Linked DNA regions of Homo sapiens: region 1 is linked to region 2. A link means that fine-mapping ties the variant in region 2 to the expression of a gene that starts in the linked region. Tissue or cell type: whole blood. Region 2 holds a variant in brackets; the other region holds the start of a gene. All regions are shown on one strand. Distances are from middle to middle.

Region 1 (9,948 bases), 27 kb after region 2:
TTTCATAGATAATGCTTTTGCTGTTGTATCTAAAAAGCCATTGGTAGATTTCCTCCTATGTTATCTTCTAAGCATTTTATAGGTTTGTGTTTTACATTTAGGCCTATGATCTGTTTTGAGTTAATTGCTGTGTAAGATGTTAAAGTCTGTGTCTAGATTTATTTTTTGCATGTGGCGGTCCAGGTCCAGTTGTTCCAGGACCATTTGTTGAGGAGACTATCTTGTCTCCATTGACTTGTCTTAGCCACTCTGGATCAGCTATTTGTGTGGGTCTAGGCTACTGTTTGGGTTTCGATGTTTGTGCCCTCCAGACCTCATGTTGAAATTTGATCCCCAATGTTGAAGGTGGAACCTAATGGGAGGTATTTGGTTCACGGGTGTGGATCCTTCATGAAATGTCCTTCCTGGGGGTAGGTGGGACGGGGAGATGAATTTTCACTCTATTAGATGACTCTGGAGCTGGTTATTTAAAGGAACCGGGCCCTTCTCTCCTCTCCCTCTTGCTTATACTCTTGTCATGTGATCTCTGCACACACGCACACTCCCTTTCATCTTTTGCCATGAGTGGAAGCAGCCTGAAGCCCTCTCCACATGCAGATGTCCAATCTTGAACTTTCCAGCCATTAGAATTGTGAGCCAAATAAACCATTTTTTCTTTATAAATTACCCAGACTCGAGTATTCCATTATAGCAATACAAAACAAACTAAGTCTATTTCTGAGCTCTATATTCTGTTCATCTTTATACACATTTTTCATCCTTACCATGAAGTTCGTATGTATCCAGCAGGTAGTAAAATTCTTATTTCGAAAATGAGGAAACTGAGGCACAGAGTGAGCAGGGCCCCTCTCCCCAGGCCAGCAGCTGGTTAGAATTGAAACCCACATCTGCCTGGCTTTGATTCTGTGCACTTTCCTTGCCCCCAAGGTGCCTAATGGTGCTAGAAAGAGACTTAGTATGTCAACCTTAACCTTAGATGTTGCTCTCTAGGGCCTAAATTGTAGCATCTCCCTTTCTTAATGGTTGCTGGAATCTTGGGCAGCTGCTCTTTGATTGTAATCAAGGCTGCCTGTCACTCACGGTTTCTCTGAACCTGTAATGTGAGTCTTGACCTGCCTAAAAACTGGCTTTGCTTAAAACATGTAGCCCTCTTTATCAGCATCCTCTAATGTTTTGCTGAGATCTTGTGCGTAACTATTTTTTCCCTGGTTCATACTGAATCCTTTTTGCTGAGAAGTCACTTGCTCATGGGGCTTGTCTTATTGTCTTTTTGAAGACAGGACCTTGCTGAGTGGGATTGCTAAACGGAGCACAGTGCTAAAAATCTCCTGGGTTAAATGTCACCATACTCCCATCAGGGCCTGGAGCACTTGCTCTCAGAATTTACAAACATTAACTCATGTTGGCGCTCTGTGTTGCCCAAGGAGAGCATCTCTACAATTTATGAAATTCTATTTTACTGCCAGAAGTCAGCAAAGAGAAAAAGAAAGAAAGAGAGGCAGAAAGAGAAAATTCCACAGTCATATTTCAAACACCAAGGGATAGATTTTTTTCTTAAGAATATAAGATTTACAAGCTCCAAACAGGAGTGAAATAGTTTGCAGAAGCTCTCACAGCAAATGAACTGGTAGAGTTCAGATTCAAATCCTGATCTGGTGCCAAGGGCAAAGCAGGTGGTCTTTAATCCTACCAGGCTTCTCTCTGTGAGAAGGGGACATGCTTACTGTGGCCTCAGCAGACAGAGTAGGCTGCGTGGGATCTGGGAGATCTTCTGTGAATGGAAGGCATCATTTCACCACTGTGCAATTGAACTAAGATACATTGTTTTATTTATTTTTTATTGATTTTTATTATTATTTTTTTGAGACGGAGTCTCGCTCTGTCACCAGGCTGGGGCGCAGTGGTGCGATCTTGGCTCACTGCAACCGCCGCCTCCTGGGTTCAAGTGATTCTCCTGCCTCAGCCTCCCGAGTAGTTGGGACTACAGGCGTGCGCTACCACGCCCAGATCATTTTTGTATTTTCAGTAGAGACGGGGTTTCACCATGTTGGCCAGGATGGTGTCAATCTGCTGACCTCATGATCTGCCTGCCTTGCCCTCCCAAAGTGCTGGATTACAGGCGTGAGCCACCGTGACAGGCCAGATTTGTTGCTTTAAAACAAAGCATATATGGTGGCTTACTATGATGTCAAGCACTGTTCAAAGCACATTACAAAGCTGGGCAGGATGGTGCTCGCCTATATTTCCAGCTACTGGGGAAGCTAAAGTGAGGCGATCGCTTGAGCCTAGGAGTTCAAGGCTGCAGTGAGCTATGATGTTGCCACTGCACTCCAACTTGGTGACAGAGTGAGACCCACTCTCTAAAACAAAGACAAAAACACATTTTACAACTGCTAAGCCATCTGCATGTGTTCATTAAAACTTTTTCTGGGGACTTTTTCTGGCTCATCCCTGTAGTCCCGATGCTAGGGGAGGTTGAGGCAAAATGATCGCTAGACAGCTGGTATTTGAGGCCAGCCTATGCAACATATCAAAAACCCGTGTCTATATGTAGAAAAAATATTAACTAGGCGTGATGACACAAGCCTGTAGTTCCATCTGCTTGGGAGGCTGAGGCAGGAGGATGGCTTGAGCCTGGGAATTTGAAGTTCCAGTGAGCTATGATTGTACCGCTGCATTCCAGCCTGGGTGACAGAGTGAGACCCCTGTCTCTAAAAAACAAACAAATGACAACAGCAACAACAACAGAACACTTTTTCTGAAGCTAGCACCATGCAGTTATGTACTTTATAAATTGCTAGTCTAATTCCAAGGGAATAGTTCAGCAGCTGATATTTGAGAAGGACCTGTAGAAAGGATTCAAAGACCACGGACACCGTCCACTGTTTTTCTGTTTTCCTATAAGATAGAAGAAGGATGGCATTATTAATTTATGCCCTGTTTACCTATCCCAAGTCCCAGATCACTGGATCTTTAAAGATTATGATTCTCGCTTGGCTTTTGGTACAAAAGGAGACAAGGAGGGAGCTTAAAAGGTGAGCACGGTGTGATTCAGGACTGAAGCTTCTGCCACTTCCTGGGGGGTAACTGCAAAAGTGAGCCGTTCTGACTAGCCGTTTGTGCATTTGCCACTGCCAAGGGGGCACAGGTAGATTCAAGCTTTGGGGCTCTTCTGACAACTGGCAAGGATAAGGTATTAGCAAGGGCAAAGGAATAGTAATAAAATAATCCAATAACAAAGACATGAAGATTTATAATAATTTTTAGGCCGGTGCAGTGTTTCAGGACTGTAATCCTAGGGCGCTTTGGGAGGCCCAGGCGGGAGGATCGCTTGAGGCCAGGATTTCGAGGTTAAGGTGAACTGCGCTCCAGCCTGGGCAATAGAGTAACACCCTGTCTCTAAAATGAAAAGAAAACAGTTTAAACCTTTTAAGTGCATACCAAATCTTTTATTTTGGAGAAGGAAAACTGGTCTCGAGTTCCGTGTGAGCTCCCTGGGGCCCGCCGGGAGGGGGTTGGCACGGCCGGACCTGCAGCACTAGTTCTGGCCAGGGCGCTGTGGGATCTGCAGGGGACCACAGGATGCTGTGGCGCGGTGCGCTCAGATTGGCGGAGAAACGGCCACACGCCTACGGAGCTACTGAGAAGGCGAGCGGAGGCGCAGCCCGCCCGCCCGCCGCGGGAACCCCAGGTTGGGGCGCTGGGCGCGCGAAGACTCAGCCGCCCCGCCCACCAAGGGCGCGTCGGTCCCCGGCCGCAGCCTCTGGGCTGGCAGCCGCCGCCGCGCCGCGCTCCCATTGGTGCCCGGCGGTGACGCGGCCGAGCGGGCCGGGGCTGCCTGGTCCGGGGGCGGGCGTGGGGCGCGGGGCGCGGAGCGCGAGGGGCGGGGGCCGGGCGCACTGCTGATGAAACCTGGCGCCGGAACCCGCCAGCCCTCGGCGCCCATTCAGTCCGCGCAGGCAGGTGTGAGCAGCGGGTCAACTACCTGGCAGGCGCGCACGCGGCCGCGGGCTCCCGCTAACCGCAGCCTCCACTCCTCTCCCCGCGCGCCGCGCCCCCGCCCCGCCCCGCCCCGCCCGGTCTCGCCGGCCGAGCGTCCGTTGGTCCTTGAGCGCGTCCGACAGTCTGTCTGTTCGCGATCCTGCCGGAGCCCCGCCGCCGCCGGCTTGGTGAGTGCCCGGCCCCGCCAACGCAGGGGGCAGCTCCTTGGGCCCGGGTCATCACGGAGGGGGCCCTGGCGCCGCGTGGGGCCGCGGCAGGGCGGCGCGGGAGTGGCGAGGGCCCCCGCGCCGGGAACGCTGCCATCCTCTGGGAAGGGCCAGGACCAGGGCCGGGCGGGCCCCGGAGTGGGCGAGCGGGGCTGGTGCCCATGCGACTGTCGCCTCCACGGAGTCCATTTTGGCTCCCTGAAACCGCGGCGTGGTGCATGATGCAACACCGAGTGAGTAAGCGTGGGCGATCTGGCGATGCCCGCTCCGCGCGCCTGTCCGGGGACCCGCGCGCCGCTACGCACGGGGTGGTCGGGGTGCGTAGGCGGGCGGCGGGCACGGGGGCCAGACTGGGAGGCACACGGAGCCCGCCGGCGGCGAGGAGACCTTCCCTTACATGGCGCGGTGCAGAGCACCCCGCCCCGCCACGAGGTCCGGGGATGTGTCATCAGCCGTGGGTGGGGACTCTGCCCGGCCGCCCGGAGGGTGGTCCCGCGGCAGGTGGCCGGCCCAGGGACTCTGCTGCCATCCCCGCCCGGTGGCCGCCCTGACCTAGGGCGCCTGGCTCTCCGCTTGTCCCTAGAACCCGGGACGCGCCGCCTGCACCTCTCGTCTGGGTCCCCAAGATTGCTTTGAGGAAGTCTCCCCTAGGTGGGCTTCCTTGTGACCCAGTGTGGCCTGGAAAGGCCGGGTTCCTCAAGCCCTCCACATGGTTTGGAATGAGAGGAAGTTCTTCCGCCTTTAGCAAGACACCGTATTCTCAGGGTGTTCCTTTCTGCGTAGTAGAAAACTTCCCAGGCATGGGCAGGTCAGAGTCATTCTAAAACCTGCGCGTACACAGAGCGGCAGCTGCACTGTAGTACTACAACAGCCTGCTGGTTCAGCTCCTGACCCTTTCCAGGGGATGGGGGAACCAGACAGCAGTTGTGTTTGACTTGTGTGACTAGGATAGTCAGACATGTGCCTTCAGGAAAAAAATAAATAAATAACCTACATTTCCCAATACTCACGTCATCACCGCCATGCCCTCATGTGTTGGGTTTTAGTCCAGACATAGTTACCAGATGGTTGAGATTTCAATCCCAGGTGTATCTCCCTAAAGAATGTGCCTTTTATCTTACTTACATTCGACTAGTAGAATTGTGTATGTCGGCCTCTGGCCGAATGCCCTAATTGTATTTAATTCGAATTATAATTTATCTGGGATTTTTCCTAACATTTCTTGCCCTTTATGTTTGGTTCAGATAATAGGAAACCATGATACATTTATTCCTCTGGTATTTTTAGTTGATCTCAGTGGAAATTACCATGATTTTTATATGAACACACCCTCCTGTTATTAAAACAAAAGGTCTTATTTAAGTCACACGAACAGAATAGAAACTTAGGGGAAAGGTCAACAATAGATTAAAATGGTTTTAAAAATAGGTTTAGCATATTACGATCATGTTTAATTATTATAAAGGTAAAATTCAAAGGATGTCAAAGGAGTTTTGAGTAAAGAGGAAAGGGCTTAGTAAGTAGATCAGAAATGTACTCCCTTGTCTGGGTCTGGATCCTAGAGCCACGTGCTCCTGTACATATGATTACTTGCTTTAGGTGAAAAAAAAAAAGAAAGGCTTGAAAGACAAGACTGTTGACTTCAGGGAGTTACAATTTTCTATTTGGTAGAAGAACTCATTCTTTGATGGAATTAAATACGTGTTGATTGATTATTCTGGTCTGTAGTTTATTTTAACCAAAGTCCATACAAATAGATAATTATGTTGGAGGGCTCAGAATTATGTCCAATTAAATTAATCCTTTCTCATTATCAACCATGTATTTGGAGGGATTGCTATTAATCCTAGGGACAAATTTGAAATGTGAATAAGTGCATCCTTGTTATGGAGAAAAATATTGTTTCCCTCTAACCTTGGAGATACTTGAGTCTCGGAGTTATCTCTTCCAGAGGCATCTTCAGAGATGCCTATCACTCCACCTGCCTCTTGGTCCTCACTCCAAGCAAGACCTTCCGATAGGATGTGGTGTTTTTCTGTATAGTTGGCCCCTGCAGACCTGGATAGATTTTAAAGGCAGATCCAATAGGATTGGCCGGTGGATTCATGGAAGGACGAGAAAGGTCAAATATGACTCCAAGCACATCGGAGTTGCTGTATTAATGAGATGGGAAGGCTGAGCAAAGAACGTGTTGGATGGAAGAGGGACTTTTTGAAAGTCACAACTGACCTTTTTAGAACTCTTATCCCCAGGGTCAGGGCTGGAAGATGTATCTTCTTGGGGCCCCTCTCAGGTGCCTGCCTGTGTGTTGCAGCCACCCGTCCAGGCTGCTGGCCTCCTTCCCCTTCACCTAGCTTTACTGGCTCCTCTCGCCAAATCTGGGGGGTCTCTTCAGCCTCTGTCTCCTTGCTGCCCATGGCCTCCCTTTGCTCCCCTGCCGCCTTCTAGTGGGCCGCCTGGTGGTGGACTTGTCCTGTGGGATGGAGACCCTCCATACATGGGGTTCAAAGGTCCTGGGGTATTCCTGGATCTTCAGGACATCTGCCTACCCTCAGGTTTCCCAGGCCTCGGGTGGGGAGGCATCAGATCCCTGGCCAACCTGCTATCCACCCCAGGGTTTAGACCTCTCTTCCCGTGAGGGAACAGAGTAGTAGCTTCATTTGTGGCAGATTATCTGCCTTGTGATAAACTTTAGTGGCCTCCCTTTCTGTTTTGCCATAATCTGCCTCCTCCCCCACTCCCATACCCATCTACAAAGCAGCCTTGAAAATAACCACCCCTGTGGTTCAGTGTGGGTCATGATCTGTCAATCCAGGCTTAGTACATTTCCAAATGGAATTACCAGAAGGATGGGCATCAAACTGGGAAAATGATTTGGTGGCTTGCTAGCCGTGTTCCTTTTTCTCCCAAGGCATTCGTTCAGATGTGCAGTGTTGGCAGACCCAGGGGATGCCATTTACCTGGCCCACTGGTCGAGATTTGGTCATCCCAGGAACTTGGGCTTCAGAAAAGATGTTTCTGGGCTTTGGACCAGATTCTGGCTGGTCTGTGGTTTGCCCCTCCTGCCACACCCAGTGGCTTTCATTGGGCTTTTTTCCTCTAGTTATTGTCAGGAACAGTGGGGAATGGCAGGTATTGCATTTGGTGAACACACTGGATAACTGGAATCAGAGCCGTGTGACTGAGGGAAGAGGCCTTCACAGCTTCAATGCAGAATGGGATGATTATCTGCCCTGAAACGAAGGATGCTTCTTTGAGGGGAGTTGGGACCAATACTGGGAACAGCACCGCTCCTGGCTTCTCTGGCTTTGCTTCTCTCTGAAGTAATTTAGACTTCGTGAACCTTACATACTGGCTCCATCTGTATATTGGGAGAGCCTGTCCCTCTCAGCCTCACAGTAGTGAAGTTAGGAAGCATGGAGTCCACAGTGTTCTTTGAAAGAATCAAGGCACCAAGTCCATGCATTTACATTTCTCTCTTGAGATCAGTCCTTTTGTTAGCAGCCTGCAATTCTGACCACGGCAACCAAAAATTTCTGACCGTGGCAACCAAAAATCAAGCGCGAGGAAACCTGGGGGTTTATTTGGAGGTGGGAGAGGATGTCCCTTCTTCTGGTAGGACTATGTCTGGCTACATTGTCTTTCCATTTTTTTCTGATTGTCCCCTTGCCCCCCTCCCTTTTCTGGGGGCACAGAGGGCATGGCAATTTTGTTTCCTAGCTTTCCATATTCCTACTGCAGTGCTTTCTTCAGAATACTTGTTCAGATCGGATTCTTGGCTGTGAGGGCAACCAGCTGCTTTCCTGTTTCTTTAAAAGTGGATCCCACACTGCCGTGTCCTGCACAGTGAGTTCTGCATTGTAGAAACCATCTAGCAGTGGTGACTCAGGGAGTGGCCTCTGCTCGGTATGGGGCCTCTGCAACATGAGGTTATGGGGCTTCTACGCTGTGGGGTCAAAGGAGACATCATGATCCCTACTGGCAGAAAGAGCAGAGCCCCAGAGTGGGTTCCACTTACGGGGTCAGTGTCTTTTCTGAGATATTCCTCAGAACCACATTTAAATTCTTTTTCATATTGTTTGCATAATAATTGCCTTCTAGTGCCTACTTTATAGGACTGAGAGGATTTAAATGAGATAATCCATGTTATGGATTTAACACAGCCTCTGGCACAAGTCTAAATGTTGCATGTAAGTGTTAACTATTATACTGGAAAGAAGGCTCAGTTCCTTGATTTAGGTGTGGGAGAAAAATATATATATATTTTGAGATAGGGTCACACTCTGTCACCCAGGCTGGAGTGCAGTGGTGCAGTCACAGCTTGTATTAGCCTCCACCTCCTGGGATCAAGCGATCCTCCCACCTCAGCCTCTGAGGTACCTGGAACCATAGGTGTGTACCACCACACCCGGCTAATTTTTATTTTTTATTTTTTGGTAGAGAAGGGATCTCATTATGTTGCCCAGGCTGGTCTCAAACTCCTGGCCTCAAGTGATCCACCTGCCTCGCCTCCCTAAAGTGCTAGGTTTATGGTCGTGAGCCACTTAGCCTAGCCCTGAGAAAAATAATTTTTACAACAACTTAATTTCGCTCTCTCATTTTACCAAGGCATTAAAATGTTGTGCTCTTTCCTTGGGTGGGTTTCTAAATTAGAAGGGGCAGACATAGTCCCAGGGTGCTGGAGGAGGGATGCGGGCCTCTGAGGCATCTGCTGACAGGTTCACCATCCCATCTGGTCCCAGGTCTGAGGGAAGGAACAATAGTCTCTGGGCTGTTTTGGCTCTGACTGCCTGGATGGACTTGAAGCCATCTCTCTTTGGAATCCTGATGTCTCCCTGAGCATGGGGTGCAGGTTTGCTTAGGACTCAGACCCATGCACCTTGCGCTCAGTGACTTCTAGGACTCCTGGGAAACAGAGCTCTCAGCCCCTTTCTTAGTGTTTGCTGTGTGTGGGTATGTGTATGTTTATGTGTATGTGTATGTGTATGTGTATATGTATGTGTGTGTGTTTGGTGGGGGGCAGGACGGGAGTGACTGCCCTGGCTACAGTCATCCCAAACATGTTGTTCAAATTACTCCGAAGCCCTTGGGTTTTAGAAAAAGCAAAGCTGAAAAGCTGAAACTCTGGGCCGTGTTTCCCACCTCACTCATCCCGTGCTTGGGTCTGTAGGATAGGATGTCTCCATACAGCACAGGGGTGGTGGGCGACACCCACCTGGGGGCAGCAGTGAGAAGGCAGGGGCTCATCCTCCCCACAAAGTGGCTGGAGTTGATCTGTTATGGACGTGTTCGAAGTGTCCTTCTCTGCATCTTGTCTGCTTACTGAGTGCCATTAGCCAAAGTCTGTTAGGCCAAGTAGGAAGGAAGGGAGGGGCCCTGGGGCTAGGTAAGATCAATCATTGCAAGCACTTATTTAGTGCTCACCATGTACTCTGCGCTTTATCTATGTTTCATTTGAATCTTCCTAACCACCCAGTGGGATCGGCCCTTCTGGTGTGACTGATGGGGAGAGGGGAAGGCAGGTGGCCCACGGGCACACAGGTAGGCAGTCAGTGGCAGAGTGAAGATTGGAACCCAGATGTCTGCCTGTACCTGGACTCCAGCCTGTCTCGGGATAGGCCTGGCCTGGCCTGCCCTGTGTACACTGAGTGGGAGGCAGACAGATCTGAAGCCCATCTGCCTGCGTCCCTCTGTTTCTGGCTGAGTCCAGGTGGTGCTGGCACCGGTCACCCGCCCCAAC
Region 2 (10,372 bases):
TCTTTCAGGAGCTCTTGCAAGGCAGACCTTGTGGTGATGAATTTCCTCAGTGTTTGTTTGTCTGAAAAGGATCTTATTTCTCCTTTGCTTATGAAGCTTAATTTGGCTGGTAATGAAATTCTGGGTTGGAAATTCTTTTCTTTAAGAATGTTGAATATTGGCCTCCAATCTCTTCTGGCTTCTAGGGTTTCTGCTGAGAGGTCTGCTGTTAGTTTGATAGGCTTCCCTTTGTAGGTGACCTGGCCTTTCTCTCTGGTTGCCCTTAACATTTTTTCCTTCATTTGACCTCACAGAATCTGATGATTATGTGTCTTGGGGTTGATCTTCTCATGGAGGATGTTACTAGGATTCTCTGAATTTCCTGAATTTGAATATTGGTCTGTCTTGCTAGGTTGTGGAAGTTCTCCCGGATGATATCCTGAAGTATGTTTTCCTACTTGGTTTCATTTTTCCCTTCCCTTTCAGGAACACCAGTCAGTTGTAGGTTCAGTCTTTTTACATAATCCCATATTTCTCAGAGGTTTTACTCATTCTATTGCATTATTTTTTCTCTATTCTTGTCTGTCTGTCTGTCTGATTTCAGAAAGATAATCTTCTAGCTCTAAGATTTTTTTCTTTTGCATGGTCTATTCTGCTATTTATACTTGTGATTGCATTGTGAATTTCTTGTGTTGTGTTTTTCAGCTCTATCAGATCAGTTATGCCCCTCTCTAAATTGGCTATTCTGTTACCAACTCCTGTATAGTTTAATCATGATGCTTAGCTTCTTTGCATTGGATTAGAACATGCTCCTTTAGCTCAGTGAAGTTCATTATTGCTTTCTGAAGCCTACTTCTGTGAATTCAGCCATCTCAGCCTCAACCCAGTTCTGTGCCCTTGCTGGAAAGGTGTTGCAGTCATTTGGAAGAGAAGAGGCACTCTGGCTTTTTGAGTTTTTAGCATTTTTGTATTGATTCTTTCTCATCTTTGTGGGCTTACCTACCTTCGATTTTTGAGATTGCTGACTTTTGAATGGGGTTTTTGCAGGATCTTTTTGTTGATGTTGTTGTTGTTGCTCTCTCTCTTTTTTTTTAATTGGTCAGCCCACTCTTCTGTAGGGCTGCTGTGGTTTACTGGGGGTTCACTCCATATCCTAGTTACCTCTATCCCTCCCACACCTGGAGGTATCACCAGTGAAGGCTGTGAAACAGCAAAGATGGCAGGCCGCTCCTTCCTCTGGGAGCTCCATCTCAGGAGAGCATTAACTTGATCCTGGCCTGAACGCTCCTGTAGGAGGAGTCTAGAGACCCCTGTTGGGAAGTCTCACCCAATCAGGAGGAATGGGATCAGAGACCCACTTAAAGTAGCAATCTTGCTGCCCCTTGGCAGGGCAGGTGCGCTGCACTGTGGGGGGAGCCCCCTTGTCCAGACTGCCTAGACTCTCTAGAGCCAGAGGCTAGAAAGACTAAGTCAGCTGAAACACAGAGCCTGTGGCTGGCCCTTCCCCTGGGGCTCTGTCACAGGAAGAGATCAGAGTTCTGGTCTGGACCGCCTGGACTTCCCGGAGCCAGCATGCTAGAATGGCCCACTCAAACCACAGAGATGGCAGCCGCCCCTCCCCTGGGGAACTCAGTCTGTCTCAGGCAGTCTCCAGCCTACTGCCACTGGCCAGCTGGAATTCCAAGCCAGTGTGTCCTAAATTGTGAGGTGCCATTGGAGTGGGGCCATCAGAACAACTCTGCTTGGCTCCCTGGATTCAGCCCCCTTCCTAGGGGAATGCACGAATGGAACTCCCACCTCACCAGAATCCCCAGGGCCAGAGTACACAAAACTCCTGGGTCTCTGTGCATGCGTGAGTGTCCACTTCCCCAAGACTCCACACAGCTCTTTGCTTCGGACCTAAGTCTCTGGTGGCTCAGGTATCTCCTGATCCACAGGTTGCAAAGATACATGGGAAAAAAGTGGTTTCCTGGGCAGGGCCTCACAGTCACTCACTACTTCCCTTGGCTGGGGGTGGGGTCTCCCTGGCTTTGTGCTGCTTCAGGTGGGTTGTCGCCTCAACCTGCTTTTCCTTGCTCTCCATGGGTCAAGCTGTCTGCCTAGAACAAGAAAGAACTTGGATGCCTCAGTTGAAAGTACAGAATTCACTTGCCATTTTCACTCCTCTCGGTGAGAGCTGCAGACTGAAGCTTCTAATTGGCCATCTTGGTCCGCCTCCCGCGTGATTATTTTTGTTTCATTTTCATTCTTTTTTGTTTGTTTGTTTGTTTTAAGAGATGAGGTCTCCCTATGTGGCTCAGGCTAGGCTTGAACTCCTGGGCTCAAGTGATCCTCCTGCCTTACCATCCAGACTAGCTAGGACTACAGGTATGCATCACCATGCCCGCCCAGCCTCTCCTTCATTCTTGAAGGATATTTTCACTGGAATTTCTTGGAATTCACAAAATATCTTAGAATTGAAAAAATTTTAAGATGATAAATATTAACTTTTAGTCATTTAACTTAATTCCATTGTCATTTTTTATTCCATTTCACTGAAAAGTGAGATGCCAGTCTAATTATTGCTCTTTTGAAGTAATTTTTTTTCCTATGGTGATTTCCAAGATTTTCCTGTTTTCCTTTGGTTTTTAACAGTTTTACATGCTTTGCCTAAGCATAGTTTTCTTTTGGTTAATGTTGCTTTGAATATGTATAGACTTTTCTCAATCTGTGATTGATGTCTTTCATTAGTTTTGGAAATTTCTTGGCTATTATCTCTTCAAATATTATTATTATTGTTATCATTAGGGACAGAGTCTCACACTGTTGTGAGAGTGCTGGAGTGCAGTGGTATGATCAGAATTCACTGCAGCCTCCAACTCCTGGGCTCAAGTAATCCTCCTGCCTCAGCCTCCCAAGTAGCTAGGACTACAGGCACACAACCACACCCACCTAATTTTTTTCTTTCTTCTTATTTATTTATTTATTTTATTTTTTTTGGAGAGACAGGGTCTTTCTTTGTTGCCCTGGCTGGTCTCTCACTCCTGGTCTCAAGCAATCCTCCCCATTTGGCCTCTCAAAATGTTGGGATTAAAGGCATGAGCCACTATGTGCAGCCCAAGTATTATTTTGACCTCATTATGGGTCTTCTTTCCTTCTGGGACTTCAACTGAATACTCTCACCATACCCTCTTTTTCTCTCACTCTTTCTTCTGGATTTTCTGTCCTTTCTGTTTCATATTCATCATGCTAGATATGCATATACATGAATCATTTTTTCTCGTCTGTCTTTCAATTCGCTAATTCTCTCTTTAGCTCTCAGTCTAAATTCCTGTCAAATTCACCCATTGAATTATAAAATATAGTCATTGTCTTTTTCAGTTCTAGAACTGCCATTTGGTTCTTTTTTTTTTTTCAGTTTCTAATCCTCTGTCAAAAATCTCTATCTTTTATTGAATATAGTAAATTTGGTTATTTTACAGTTAATATTTGATATCACCATGATTTTATATTGGTGGACTGTTGATTTTGCCGGCCTGCTGTTTCTGGTGATTTTCTATCATGCTATTGTTTCTCTTTATATTCTAAAAATGTTTCATTGAGTGCTGGAGATTGTATTTGGAAACTATTTTGTAGATAATTTGATGTTTGCTTCTGCCAGCTGCCTGGGAGTAATAACAATCTGGAATCATTTTAGTGTAGTTTCAGGAATTGATACAATTCAAATATGAACAGTGGTCCTTGAAAGGATCTTTCTACTTGTAGTTTACCCTTTTTCTAGGATTCAGCCCACAAGGTTGCGACTCAAAACAAGAGAAGTTCACCGAAGTTCCCCCTCAATCTTGGCAGCACCTGGACCCCAATCCTTATTTCATCTGCCTCTGGTACTGTTAAGAGACCTTCTCAGCCTCTCGGCAGCCTCCATCTAAAATTGAAAAATGCTTCCAAGGAAAAAGCAGCCTCAAAGTCAAGAGAAAAAGGAGGTTCCTCTTCCTAGCCTCCCCTTTTCCTCCTAAAACATGGGCTAGCAACTTTTCACTGTCTCACTTTCTCTTGCTTGTATTCAAGCAGATACCTTTTATTTTGGCTACCTTATAGTCGGCAGAATGAGAGGTCTGAATAACCTAGTCTATCATTACCAGAAGCCTTAATTTAGTTTTTTAAATATTTATTTATTTATTTATTTACATGTAAATCACGGTAATATATATAAAAAACATAAAATTTACCATTTTAAGTGTACAGTACAGTGGCATTAAATACTCACATTGTTGTGCAACCATTACCACCATTCATCTCCAGAACTTCTTTATCTTTCCAAACTGAAATTCCATACTCGATTAAACAATAACTCCTCATTCCCCACTTCCCCTGGCCCTTGGCAATCACCATTCTATTTTCTGTCTCTATAAATTGGACTGCTCTAGGTACCTCATATAAGTGGACTCATACTGTATTTATCTTTTTTTGACTGGCTTATTTCACTTAGCATAATGTCTTCAAGCTTCATCCATGTTACAGTATGTGTCAGAATTTCCTTCTTTTTTAAGTTTAGATCATGTTTTATTGTATGTACAAACCACATTTTGCTTATCCATTCA[T/A]CTGTTGATGGACAACTGGGTTGCTTCCACCTCTTGGCTATTATGAATAATATTGCTATGAATATAGATGTCCAAATATAGTCATACATCCCATAATAGCATTTTAGTCAACAACAAACTATATGTAAAACAGTGGTTCCATAAGATAATAATGGAGCTGATAAATTCCTATCACCAAGTGACATCATAGCATAATAATGTTGTAGCACAATGACTCTATTTTTTTTGAGATGAAGCCTTGCTCTGTCACCAGGCTGGAGTGCGGTGGCGCGATCTCAGCTCACTGCAACTTCCGCCTCCCAGGTTCAAGCGATTCTCCTGCCTCAGCTTCCTGAGTAGCTGGGACAACAGGCGCATGCCACCACGCCAGGCTAATTTTTTGTATTTTAGTAGAGACAGGGTTTCCCCATGTTGGCCAGGATGGTCTCGATCTCCTGACCTTGTGATCCAGCCACCTTGGCCTCCCGAAGTGCTGGGATTACAGGCGTGAGCCACTGAGCCCGGCCAACATTATTTTAAAAATAAATTTAGTGTAGTCTAAATGTACAGTGTTTCTAAAGTCTACAGTTGAGTACAGTAATGTCCTAGGCTTTCACATCCTCACCACTTATTTGCTGACTCACTCAGAGGAACTTCCAGTCCCCAAGTTCCATTCATGGTAAGTGCCCTATGTAGGTATACCATTTTTTATCTTCTGAATTATGTTTTTACTGTCTCTTTTCTATATTTAGATATGTTTAGATATCTGGGTACTTACCATTGTGTTACAATTGCCTACAGTATTCAGTAAGGAAACATGCTGTATATAGTACAGGTTTGTAGCCTAGGTATATAGTAGGCTCTATTATCTAGGTTTGTGTAAGTATACTCTATGATGTTCACACAATGATAAACTGCCTAACAATGCATTTCTGAGAACATATTCCTGTCATTAAATAACACATGATTGTAACTGAGTCCTTGCTTTCATTTCTTTTGGGTATATATCCAGACAGGGGATTGTTGAACCATATAGTAATTCTATGTTTCATATTTTGGGAAACCACACACTATTTTCCATAGTAGCTGCAACATTTTACATTCCCACCAACAATGCACAAGGATTCTAATTTCTCTTCACCAACACTTATTTTCTGGTTTTTTTTTTTTTTTTTTTTTTGGTAATAGCCACCATAATGGGTGTGATCAATTGAGTTTTAGTTTCAGTTATTATATTTTTTCATTTCTAGAGTTCTATTCCATTTTTTTCAAACATCTGTTTTATTTATTTAACACTGCTAAAGATAGTTATTTTATATCTGGGTGTGATATTTCTCTATCTGAAGTTTTGCACATCTGTTTCTATTGTCTGTTACTGATTATTTCACTGATGGTGCCTTTTTAGTCTGTGTTTAGATGATTTAAAATTATGAGTTGATCATTTTATTTAGGCATTTATTCATGGGAATTTTTCCCACGTACCCTTGCTTGAAGGTACATTCTTCTAAATAAGATTTGTGTTTGCTTTTGCCAGCAACTAGGAGGCACTGCCAATATGAGACTTCTTTAAATTTAATCCTGGCTTGAGATTGTTCAGATCACTACCAATATGAACTTGTACCGAAATTTATGTGGGGTCCAGACTGAGATGATGAATTCTCAATAAAGACTGCTATTACCCCTCCAACAAGCATCAAGTTCAAGACGAGGAGGTTTCTCCATTGTTTCCATTTGCATATCAGTTTTTATTTCTTTTTCATCCCATCATGAAATGTTGCCCTTGGGGTCCCAGCTAAATGCAGAAGTGGGTATCTCCTTATAGGAGTAAATCTTACAGATTTACTAATTTTAGTAGATGCTCAGCTTTATTTCCTTGCCTGGACCTAATTAATTTGAGAGATATTTTATATTCCCAGTGGAAAAAAGGACTACAGCAAAGGTATACATTCTTCTTCAGTTAGTGTGTAGTCTTAAAGTAATTCCATTCAACATTCCAGAGTTCTGTGTATGGCAGGGAAGAATGTGGTAAAATGATTCTCAGAATAAATCAGTATGAAAAATAAGAATTTTAGAAAGAAGAATGGGAAGACAGAAGAATTTACCTACTTGACAGCAAGCTACATCACTAAGTTGTCCAAAGAAAAATGATACAATAATTAACAATAATTCCATGGAAGAGCCTAAATAGAGTAAACCCTAAAATATAACCTTAATGTATGATAAATGACTCATCACAAGTCATTAAGAAATTGATTCTTCAGCAAATGGTGTTTGTAAAATATAAAACTGAGATTTATATTCTTACTTCATTGCATACACTGGAGTAAATTTGCCATAAATTAAACAACTGAAAATACAAGAACCTGTAAAATTTATTTTATATGAATGAATGAATAATCTCTAGTCAGAAAAAACTTTCTAAGGATGGAAGCAATTAGAGAAATAACAAAAGGAAAGATAACTAGATACAAATGAAAAGTCTGTACAGCAAAAGACATAACAACTTAAAGCTAACAACAACTGTAGGGAAAATTCTTTTTTAATTTTAATTTTAATTTTTTATTTCAGTAGGTTTTTGGGGAACAGGTGGTGTTTGGTTACACTGATAAATTCTTTAGCAGTAAATTTAGTGATTTTGGTGCACCTATCACATGTGCAGTGCACACTGTACCAAATGTGTTGTCTTTTATCCCTCATCCCCTCCCAACCTTTTCCCTGAGTCCCCAAAGTTCACTGTATCGTTGTTATGCCTTTGCGTCCTCATAGCTTAGCTCCCTCTTATGAATGAGAATATACGATGTTTGGTTTTCCATTCCTGAGTTACTTCACTTAGAATAATGGTCTCAAATTCCATCCAAGTGACTGTGAATGCCATTGTTTTGTTCTTTTTATGGCTGAGTAGTATTCCATATATATATTTTCTTTATCTACTCATTGATTGATGGGCATTTGGGCTACTTTCATATTTTTGCAATTGTGAATTGTGCTTTCATAAACATGTGTGCAAATATCTTTTTCGTATAACAACTTCTTTTCCTCTGGATAGATACCCAGAAGTAACATTGCTGGATCAAATGGCAGATTTACTTTTAGTTCTTTAAGGAATCACCACACTGTTTCCCATAGTGGTTGCACTAGTTTACATTTTCACCAGCAGTGTAAAAATATTTATTTTCACCACATCCACGCCAACATTTATTATTTTTTGATTTTTTGATTATAGTCATATTTGCAGAAGTAAGGTGGTATCACATTGTGATTTTGATTTACATTTCCCAGACAATCAGTGGTATCAAGCATTTTTTCATATGTTTGTTGGCCATTTGTATACCTTCTTTTGAGAATTGTCTATTCATGTCCTTAGCCCAGTTTTTGCTGGAATTGTTTGTTTTTTTCTTGCTGATTTGTTTGAGTTCTTCATAGATTCTGGATATTAGTCCTTTGTCAGATGCATATTTGTGAAGATTTTCACCACTGTGGGTTGTCTGTTTACTCTGCTGATTATTTCTTTTGCTGTGCAGAAGCATTTTAGTTTAATTAAGTCCCATCTATTTATTTTTGTTTTTGTTGCATTTGCTTTTGGGTTCTTGGCCATGAAGTCTTTGCTTAAGCCAATGTCTAGAAGGTTTTTTTATGTTATCTTCTAGGATTTTTATAGCTTCAGGCTTTACATTAAAGTCTTTGATCCACCTTTAGTTGATTTTTTATAAGATGAGAGATGAAGATACAGTTTCATTCTTCCACATGCGGCTTGCCAATTATCCCAGCACCGTTTGTTGAATAGGGTGTCCTTTCCCCACTTTACGTTTTTTTTTTTGCTTTGTTGAAAATCAGTTGGCTGTAAGTATTTAGCTTTATTTCTGGGTTCTCTATTCTGTTCCATTGGTCTATGTGCTTATTTTTATACCAGTACCATGATGTTTTGGTGACTATAGCTTTATAGTATAGTTTGAAGTCAGGTAATGTGATGCCTCCAGATTTGTTCTTTTTGCTTTGTCATGCTTTGGGTATGCGGGCTATTTTTTGGTTGCATATGGATTTTAAGATTGTTTTTTCTAGTTCTGTGAAGAGTGATGGTGGTATTTTGATGGGAATTGCATTGAATTTGTAGATTGCTTTTGGCAGTATAGTCATTTTCACAATATTGATTCTACCCTCTCATGAGTGGGGGATGTGTTTCCATTTGTTTGTGTCATCTATGATTTCTTTCAGCAGTATTTTGTCATTTTCCTTGTAGAGGTCTTTCACCACCTTGGTTAGATATATTCCTAAGTATTTTATTTTATTCAAAGCTATTGTAAAGGATGTTGAGTTTTTTATTTGATTCTCAGCTTGGTCGCTGTTGACATATAGCAGTGCTATTGATTTGTGTACATTGATTTTTGTATCCTGAAACTTTACTGAATTAATTTATCAGATCTAGGAGCTTTTGGGATGAATCTTTAGGGTTTTCTAGGTATATGATCATATCATTGGCAAACAGCAAGAGTTTGACTTCCTCTTTACCAATTTGGATGCTCTTTATTTCTTTCTCTTGTCTGATTGCTCTGGCTAAGACTTCCAGTACTATGTTGAATAGAAGTAGTGAAAGTGGGCATCCTTGTCTTGCTCCAGTTCTCAGGGGGAATGTGTTCAGCTCTTCCCCATTCAGTGTAATGTTGGCTGTGGGATTGTCATAGATGGCTTTTATTACCTTAAAGTATTTCCCTTCTATGCTGATTTTACTGAGGGTTTTAATCTTATAGCAATGCTGGATTTTGTCAAATGCTTTTTCTGTGTCTGTTGAGATGATCATATGATTTTCTTTTAATTCTATTTATGTGTTGTATCACGTAAACAGAATTGCATATGTTAAACCACCCCTGCATCCCTGGTATGAAACCCACTTGATTATTATGGATTATCTTTTTTATATGCTGTTGAGTACAGTTAGCTAGTATTTTGTTAGGGATTTTTGCACCTACGTTCATCAGAGATATTGGTCTGTAGTTTTCTTTTTTTGTTATATCCTTTCCTGGTTTTGGTATTATGGTGATACTGGCTTCATAGAATGATTTAAAGAAGATGCCCTCTTTATCTTGTAGAATAGTGTCAGTAGGGTTGCTACCAATTCTTCTATGAATGTCTGATAGAATTCAGCTGTGAATCTGTCTTGTCCTAGACTTTTCTGTTGACAATTTTTTAAATTGCTATTTCAATTTTGCTGCTTGCTGTTGGTCTGTTCAGAGTATCTATTTCTTCCTGGTTTAATCTAGGAGGGTTGTATGCTTCCAGGAATTTATCCATCTTCTCTATGTTTTCTAGTTTGTGTGTGTAAAGGTGTTCATAGCAGCCTTGAATGATCTTTTGTATTTCTGTGGTATCAGTTGTAATACCTCCTGTTTCATTTCTAATTGAGCTTATTTGGATCTCCCCTCTTCTTTTCTTGGTTAATCCTGCTAATGGTCTATCAATTTTGTTTATCTTTTCAAAGAACCAGCTTTTTGCTTACTTTATCTTTTGTATTGTTTTTCTTTGTTGTTTTAATTTCATTTAGTTCTGCTCTAATCTTTGTTGTTTCTTTTCTTCTGTTGGGTTTTGGTTTGGTTTGTTGTTTCTCTAGTTCCTTGAGGTGTAACCTTAGATTGTCTATTTGTGCTCCTTCAGGCTTTTCGATGTACACACTCAATGCTTTCCTCTTAGCACCGCTTTTGCTGTATCATAGAGGTTTTGATAGGTTGTGTCACTATTATCATTCAGTTCAAAGAATTTTTTAAATTTCTATCTTGATTTCATTGTTGACCCAATGATCATTCAGGAGCAGGTTATTTAATTTCCACATATTTGCATGGTTT

What was found.
Region 1: it holds the start of SLC7A1, and the variant in region 2 is fine-mapped to the expression of SLC7A1 in whole blood (INTERVAL, PIP above 0.99).

What each region holds. Positions count from the first base shown.
Region 1 is chr13:29,589,637-29,599,584 of GRCh38, reverse strand. SLC7A1 (solute carrier family 7 member 1) reads left to right here and starts at 3,897. Exons shown (of 13, transcript NM_003045.5): 1 at 3,897-4,169. RefSeq lists silencers at 3,531-4,770, 4,939-5,233 and enhancers at 4,881-5,010, 6,100-6,599, 6,600-7,101, 9,262-9,948.
Region 2 is chr13:29,616,395-29,626,766 of GRCh38, reverse strand. No RefSeq gene overlaps it. Among named protein-coding and RNA genes, the nearest start is that of SLC7A1, 26 kb to the right of the region's middle. The variant T/A (reference allele first, on the strand shown) is at 4,560.